Linked DNA regions of Homo sapiens. The protein of the gene in region 1 interacts with the protein of each later gene in a pairwise test. Each region holds a gene or a part of one and is shown on either strand. Other genes may lie near its edges.

What was found. Proteins that work in one complex are often made in the same cells at the same time.
Region 2: the proteins of SYNGR1 (region 1) and EHHADH interact in binary tests that used the Homo sapiens proteins (3 or more experiments, as listed by UniProt).

The regions. Positions count from the first base shown.
Region 1 is NC_000022.11:39,373,843-39,377,498, forward strand, and holds part of SYNGR1 (synaptogyrin-1), read left to right. Parts: intron 1-473; coding exon 474-711; intron 712-2,209; coding exon 2,210-2,355; intron 2,356-3,656. UniProt on the Homo sapiens protein: May play a role in regulated exocytosis. Modulates the localization of synaptophysin/SYP into synaptic-like microvesicles and may therefore play a role in synaptic-like microvesicle formation and/or maturation.
Region 2 is NC_000003.12:185,243,955-185,247,610, reverse strand, and holds part of EHHADH (peroxisomal bifunctional enzyme), read left to right. Parts: intron 1-3,656. UniProt on the Homo sapiens protein: Peroxisomal trifunctional enzyme possessing 2-enoyl-CoA hydratase, 3-hydroxyacyl-CoA dehydrogenase, and delta 3, delta 2-enoyl-CoA isomerase activities. Catalyzes two of the four reactions of the long chain fatty acids peroxisomal beta-oxidation pathway.

The sequences.
Region 1 (3,656 bases):
CCCCAGACCAGCCCACAGCTCTGCAGAGGGAAGGAGAACACAAGATGGGGCCCGGCACATGCCAGCATCTGGAGGAGTCAGCCTGGGGGTGGGGGCTGGGCAGGTCCACAGCCCAGGAGGGCCTGTGGCTCCTTGTTCTTTGAGAGTCGGTCCAGTCCCAGGATATCTTGGTGTCAGGGCCCAGGAAGACCTTTAGGACCTGGCTGAGGGGTGTTGGAAGGGGCCACATCTATGGTCAGAGAGTCCTCAGTGCCTGTGGCTGAGGAAGGAAGTGATTGACCCCCACCTGGTGCTATGTGACCCACATAAGTTACCCTCCCTCTCTGGGGATCCCCCTCTGAAATGCCTGCTTAACCCGGGTCTTGTAGCTCACGGAGGGCCAGGCAGCAGGCGAGGGTGGCAGCCTCCCCGTCCCCTGGGTGGTGTGAGGCAGGGGTCTGCCCAGGTCTAAGGTGTGGCCCCACCCCCGACAGCTGTTCTCCATAGTGGTGTTCGGCTCCATCGTGAACGAGGGCTACCTCAACAGCGCCTCCGAGGGGGAGGAGTTCTGCATCTACAACCGCAACCCCAACGCCTGCAGCTATGGCGTGGCCGTGGGCGTGCTCGCCTTCCTCACCTGCCTGCTGTACCTGGCCCTGGACGTGTACTTCCCGCAGATCAGCAGCGTCAAGGACCGCAAGAAAGCCGTCCTGTCCGACATCGGTGTCTCGGGTGAGCCCCACCCAGCAGGTACCCCCTGCACAGAGTCTACAGAGGGCTGTCCCGGCCATAGGAGGCGGCTGCCACCCTTCTTCCCATGTTTCAGATGAGGAAATGAGGTGCAGGCGGGTGAAGGGATGGACTCAGGGTCACATGGCTGGCAGCAGGAAGGATGGGACCAGGACAGGGCCTGGGACCCCAAAATAACCCATGCTGCCCACAGGCAGGGGAGCGTGGATGGGATTCTAGTTCCTTCTAGTCTAAGGGACCCATGGATGGCACTGGGCATGTGCCAGCCCCCATGGGTTGGCCCGTGTTTCAGTGGCCTCTTCTGTGCCACCTCCCTGGGGCAGCCTCATGAGGACTAAGCAAGGCGGTGACTGGGTGCCCAGTGCACAGCAGGGGCCCTGGAGCCTCAGCCTCCCCACGCCTCCCAGCCAGACCTTGGCAGGACCAGGGCCTGGACCTGTGGAGCCAACCTGACCTGCTGCCCTTTGCCCTTCAGAAGCAGCCTTTGGCAGAGGCACCCTGACCTCTGCTCCGTGACTTCCAGGAATCTGATTGGTGGATGCTCTCAGTCAGGGGTCCGAACCCGAGGCTTCAGCCTCGCTGTTCTGAGGCTTGGGTCCCCGGACTGGGACCAACCCCTAGTTCTAAGCCTGGAGCTCTCAGGATAAGCCAGGCTGAAGGCAGGTCATGAGGTCTAGTTTTAGAAGGAACTAGAACTAAATGAATGGTTCTCAAACTTCCACAGAGCCTCAGGGTTCCCTGGCAGTGCCTCTGGGAGGTGGGCTGGGCCCCAGGTGGGCACCCCACCTGCTTGGCAGATGCACGCCTTGTCCTGAGCAGGTCTGGGCTTCTCTGGGGAGACCTTGGCACTCACAGGAGATTGCGTGGCTATGAGGCTCCCACTGCTGACGCCCCCAGGCTCGGCTCTCAGTGGGCCCCTCGCTAAACCTGGGGCTCTGTGGGGTCGCAGCACGTTAGAAGTCGAAGCCCAGACCCACCCAGCCAAGCTGCCATCCTTGCCCCAGCCTCGTCCTCCTTCCCATACCTCATTTGTCTGGCAGCCTGAGGGTTGGGGTCTTCCTGCCTGCAGAGTTGCAGGCATCAGGGGTGGACCGGGGGGGCCCACGTCAGCGGTGTGGCTGGACATGGGGGTTTGGCAGAGGCTGCAGAAATGCGGCCTGAGTTGATTACCTTCTTTCTCTGTCTCTCCCTCCATCCTCCCCTCTCACTGCCCGTGGCTCTCCTCTGACTGGCCCTGACCCTGCCCTGTCTGTGGCCTCCTCCCCCCTGCATCTGGCTGGCTTCCCTCTTCTCGCCTGCATCTTCTCTTGGCTCCCCTCTCTCTTCCCCTACCCCCTTTGCCTGTCCCTTTGGGGGTGGGGGAGCATGGGAGATGCACTCTTGAATGTCCCTCTGTTCCTCGGCTTCCCCATTTTCTCCCCACTCACCCTCTCCCCCATGTGTGGCACTGCCTATTCTGCCCGGTCCTGGGACCCCCCAGCCTTCTGGGCTTTCCTCTGGTTCGTGGGATTCTGCTACCTGGCCAACCAGTGGCAGGTCTCCAAGCCCAAGGACAACCCACTGAACGAAGGGACGGACGCAGCCCGGGCCGCCATCGCCTTCTCCTTTTTCTCCATCTTCACCTGGGTGAGTACAGCCACCGCGCACCAGCCCACACTCGTCCCCTTTCCCCACTGAGCCCCTGGATGGGTGGCCTTTCGCTAGCCTGGGACCCGCTCTGCCTCTGGGAGCCCACACTACCCTCGCTCCCTCTTCTGCCTGCCTGTCTGCGGCGCTCACAGTGGTGCTGCCTCCCTCAGCAAGGAGGCTACAGCCCTCGGGGGTAGCATGGTCACTGGAGATGGCAGACCCTCACTGTGGTGCAGAGCAGCCTTCCTGGGGGTCACGGACCACCCCCCCCCCAAACCACTCTGGGTAAATGGTGTTTATTATCCCCTTTCACAGATGAGAAAGCAGAGGCCTAGACAGGAAGGTGAGGCTTACAGGGTTTGAGGCTGGGAAGCAGCCCTGCCTAGGAGTCAGGAGACCTGCTTCCGATCGGGGCTGCCTCTGATTTTCCTAGCCTCTGTCTTCCCATCCATAAAATGAGAGGGTAGGATCTGGGGGACACAGGTGTCGACATCAGATGCACATGGGCCAGGCAGGGCCTGAGAGCCGTGAGCAGGCCGGGTGACACATGCGTGCCTATCCTAAGTCCTAAGAGGGTACCTCTGCTCGGCTGCCAAGCAGGAATAGGGACCTAGAGAAGGCAGAAGTCTGAATTTTTACATGAAATCTGATCTTGATATGTTGGAAGTTTATTCAGGTTTAAACAATATATTGTGTGTGTCAAACAAAGTATGTCTCTGGGCCCAGCAGGCCCTGGGCTGGCAGCTCGGCTGGCCCCTCTTTCCCACTGGTCTGGGTCATGTCTGTTTCTTCTCTCCTAATCACCCTTCTGCAGAGATCTGGGGCCACATCACCTCCATAGCCCCATCCCAAGAGCCCTCCCCATAACCCACAGCTGCCTCCCCTCTGGACCGGCGAGCACTTCTGGGCCCAGCCTCCTGCAAGGAGACTCTTGAGGCTACATACAGGCCGCCAGCCGTCCCTGTTTCCCCCATCCTTCTGGTTTGCCCCGGGTTGACGTCTTTTTCTTTTTGAGGGCCCCTGGATATCCATTTTTGAGGGGTACACCCATCTCCCCAACAATATTAGAAGATAGCATTTGGAGGGGGAGACCCGTGGTTCAGGCCCTAGTGGGCCAGCCTTGGCTGCTCCACCCCTCAGTGTCCTCAAGACTGGGTAGGAAGAACCAGGTGACCCCAGGGGATCTCAGTCCAGAGAAGGTGCCCCAGAAGTGGGGACCACCCAGCCTACAGGGAGGAGTTTAGGGGCGGGGCTCACAGAGGAGTAGTGGATGATTTCTAGCCATGGGTCTGAAGTAC
Region 2 (3,656 bases), on another chromosome or scaffold:
TACCATTTATCTTGCCTGTTATATGCCAGTACCATGTAGGTTATTTATTAAATAATAATAATAAAAATAATAGTATTTTTAAACATGTTATATGTTAATTCTCAGTTAGTCCTACAATCCTCATTTACAGGTAAGAAGAGATTTTGAGCCTGGGAGAGATTAATATAATGTCCCAAACCTTAACCAGTTATTAAATGGCTTACTCACTGTTTGGAAATTTAAGGTTTGTCACCCAAGATGATGACGATGATGCATGGGAAGAGTGCTCAGAATGATAAAGAACTTGATATTTCTTTGTAAGAAAGAAGGTAGATGAGAGAATGTAATTAGAGTTTGGAGGCAGAAAAAATTATTCTTCTAAAAAAGTATTAGGGATTATGAAACTTGACTTAATACATTTACATAGAACAATGCACCCCAAAATGGGAGAATATACATTCTTCTGAAATACATCTGGAACATTTACAAAAATTGACCAGATACTGAATTATAAAATCTTATCTAAATAAATTTCATTAAGAATACATTATCTGACAACAATGCAATTAAGCTAGAAATCAATAACAAAAATATAACTAGTAATTCTCATATGTTTGGAAGTTAATTTCCAATATCCTCTGAGTAAAAACAGAAATAATGGAATTTAGAAAAAATTTGGAACTGAATGGCAATGAAAACATAATATAAAACTTGAGGGATGCAGCTAAAGTAAAACTTATCAGAAAATTTATAGCTTTAAAAATATATATTAGAAAAGAAAAATGGCTGAAATATAATGAGTTAAGTATTTATGTAAAGGAACTGACAAACTAACCGTAAAATACACCCTAATCAAGTAGAAGAAAGGAAATAATAAAGAGGAGAAATTAATGAAATAGAAAACATTTGAATCAAGAGGAACAACAATGTTAGTTTTTTGAGACTAATACAATTGACAAACTCTGGAGAGATTGAAGGAGAAGAGAAGGCACCAAGCAATGCATATAAAGAATGATGAAAGGGATATCATTGCAGATACTGTAGCCTTTAAGAAAGATAATGGCCCTTTGGCTGATGCAAGAGCCTAGTGCGGTGGTGGGAGAGGTATCAGCAGGAGCAGCGCTGCCACGGGGCCTGGGGGCTGACCTGTCTGACTTCCCATCCATGCGGAGCCCACTGGAATCGCATCCATATCTGGAGATGAGATGATTTTTGATCCTACTGTGAGCAAGAAGAAAAGAAGAAGAAGAAGCCTTTTATGTTAGATGAGGAAGGGGATACTCAAACAGGAAACGCAGCCCTCAGAAACAAAAGTCTGGAGCCAGAGCCAACTGAGGACAAAGATTTGGAAGCTGACAATGAGGACAGTAGGAAAAACGATGCTTCTGATGATCTAGATGACTTGAACTTCTTTAATCAAAAGAAAAAGAAAAAAAAACAAAAAAGATATTTGATATTGATGAAGCTGAAGAAGTTGTAAAGGATCTTAAGATTGAAAGTGATGTTCAAGAACCAGCTGAACCAGAGGATGACCTTGACATTATGCTTGGAATAAAAAGAAGAAAAAGAAGAATGTCAAGTTCCCAGATGAGGATGAACTACTAGAGAAAGATGAAGCTCTAGAAGATGAAGATAGCAAAAAAGATGATGGTATCTCATTCAGTAATCAGACAGGCCCTGCTTGGGCAGGCTCAGAAGGAGACTACACATAAGAGGAGCTGCTGAATTGTGTGTTCAACATCATGAGGGAAAAGAATCCAGATATGGTTGCTGGGGAGAAAAAGAAATTCGTTATGCAACCTCCACAGGTCGTCTGAGTAGGAACCAAGAAAACTTCTTCTGTCAACTTTACAGATATCTGTAAACTATTATATTGTCAGCACACTTGCATTTTTGTTGGTTGAATTGGGTACAAGTGGTTCTATAGATGGTAATAACCAACTTGTAAAGGAAGATTCCAACAAAAACAGATAGAAAATGTCTTAAGATTTATCAAGGAGTATGTCACTTGTCACACATGCTGATCACTGGACACAATCCTGCAGAAGGACATGCAACTCTTATTTCCTACAGTGTGAAACTTGTCATTCTAGATGTTCTGTTGCCAGTATCAAAACTGGCTTCCAGACTGTCATGGGCAAGCGAGCACAGCCCTGTGCCAAAGCTAACTAATTTGCTAATCACTGATTTTTCAAAGCGTGTTGTGGATATGTGGCTAAACCAGTTTGCCATCAGAGTGGATATACCATTGTATTAAAAGCAAGATAAAAAAGCTGCCAAGTTCTTTGGCTAGTGGCTGGTTGGTGTGAAATCCTTGCAAGATGCTGATGCTCAAGCTGTTGACATATGTATAGACTACTTTAACAACTGTCAGAGAAACATGATATGGGGTAAAGAGGTGCTTTTTTAAAATCGTTCATAGACTTCTGTAAAATACAAGATAAATTAAAGTTATTGTAACAGTGAAAAAAGAAAGATAATGAAAATATTATGAACATGTAAAAAAAATAGCTTCTCAAAATTAACTCAAGAAGAAATAGAAAACCCAAATAGTTCTGTAATCATTAAAGAAATTCAATCAGTAATCAGAAATCTCACCAAGTAAATACTTGACCCTGAAGACTCCACTGGCAAGGTCTACTGTAAAGTCAAGGAAAATATTCCAATTTTACATAAACATTTCAGAGAATCAAAAAAGTGGGGCCACTTTCTCTATTAGTTTCTTAGAGCACCATAACAAATTGCCACAAACCAAGTGGCTTAAAACAACAGAAATCTATTCTCTCATTGCTCTGGAGGATAGAAGTTTGTAATCAAGATATCAGCAGGGTCATTCTTCTTCTGTTTTCTTTAGGGAAGAATCCTTCCTTGCCTCTTCTAGCTTCTTATGGTTTCTAGCAATCCTTGGCCTATGGATGCATCACTCCAGTCTCACTTTAATCACATGGCTTTCTTTCCTCCATGTCTAAATTTTCCTGATCTTCTATAGGCCCACCCTAACTCAGCATGACCTCATCTTAATTTGATAACATCTGCGAAGACCTTCTTTCCAAATGTCACACTCACAGCTTCTGGGTAAACACTATTCAACTCAGTACACTTCCCAACTCATTTTTTGAGGCAGCATACCCTTGATACTAACACCTGACAAGGACAGTATGGAAAAGAAAAATTACAGGCTAATTTCATTTATAAATGTAGATATAAAAATCGTAGTGTAAATTGAGACAACAAAGCAACTAGGTAACAATATTATGACGGAAACAAACCCTCATATATCAATATTAACCCTGAACATAAATGGCCTAAATCCTCCACTTAAACATATAGACAGGCAAATTGGATTAAAAAACAAAACCTGATCGTTTTCTGCCCACAAGTGACACCCTTTGGTAAAAACACCCACAAACTCAATGGAGTGGAAAAAGATACACTGTGCAAACACAAAACAAAAATGAGCAGTAGTAGCTATATTTACATCAGATAAAGCAGATTTTAAATCAACAACAGTAAAAAGACAAAGAATGTATTATATAATAATAAAGGGTTCAATACAAGGAGAAGATATAGCTGTCTTAAATATATATGCATCCCAAAATGGACAACTCAGATTTATAAAACAAATACTACTCAACCTAATAAAAGAGATAGACAGCTATACAATAATAAGGGAGGAC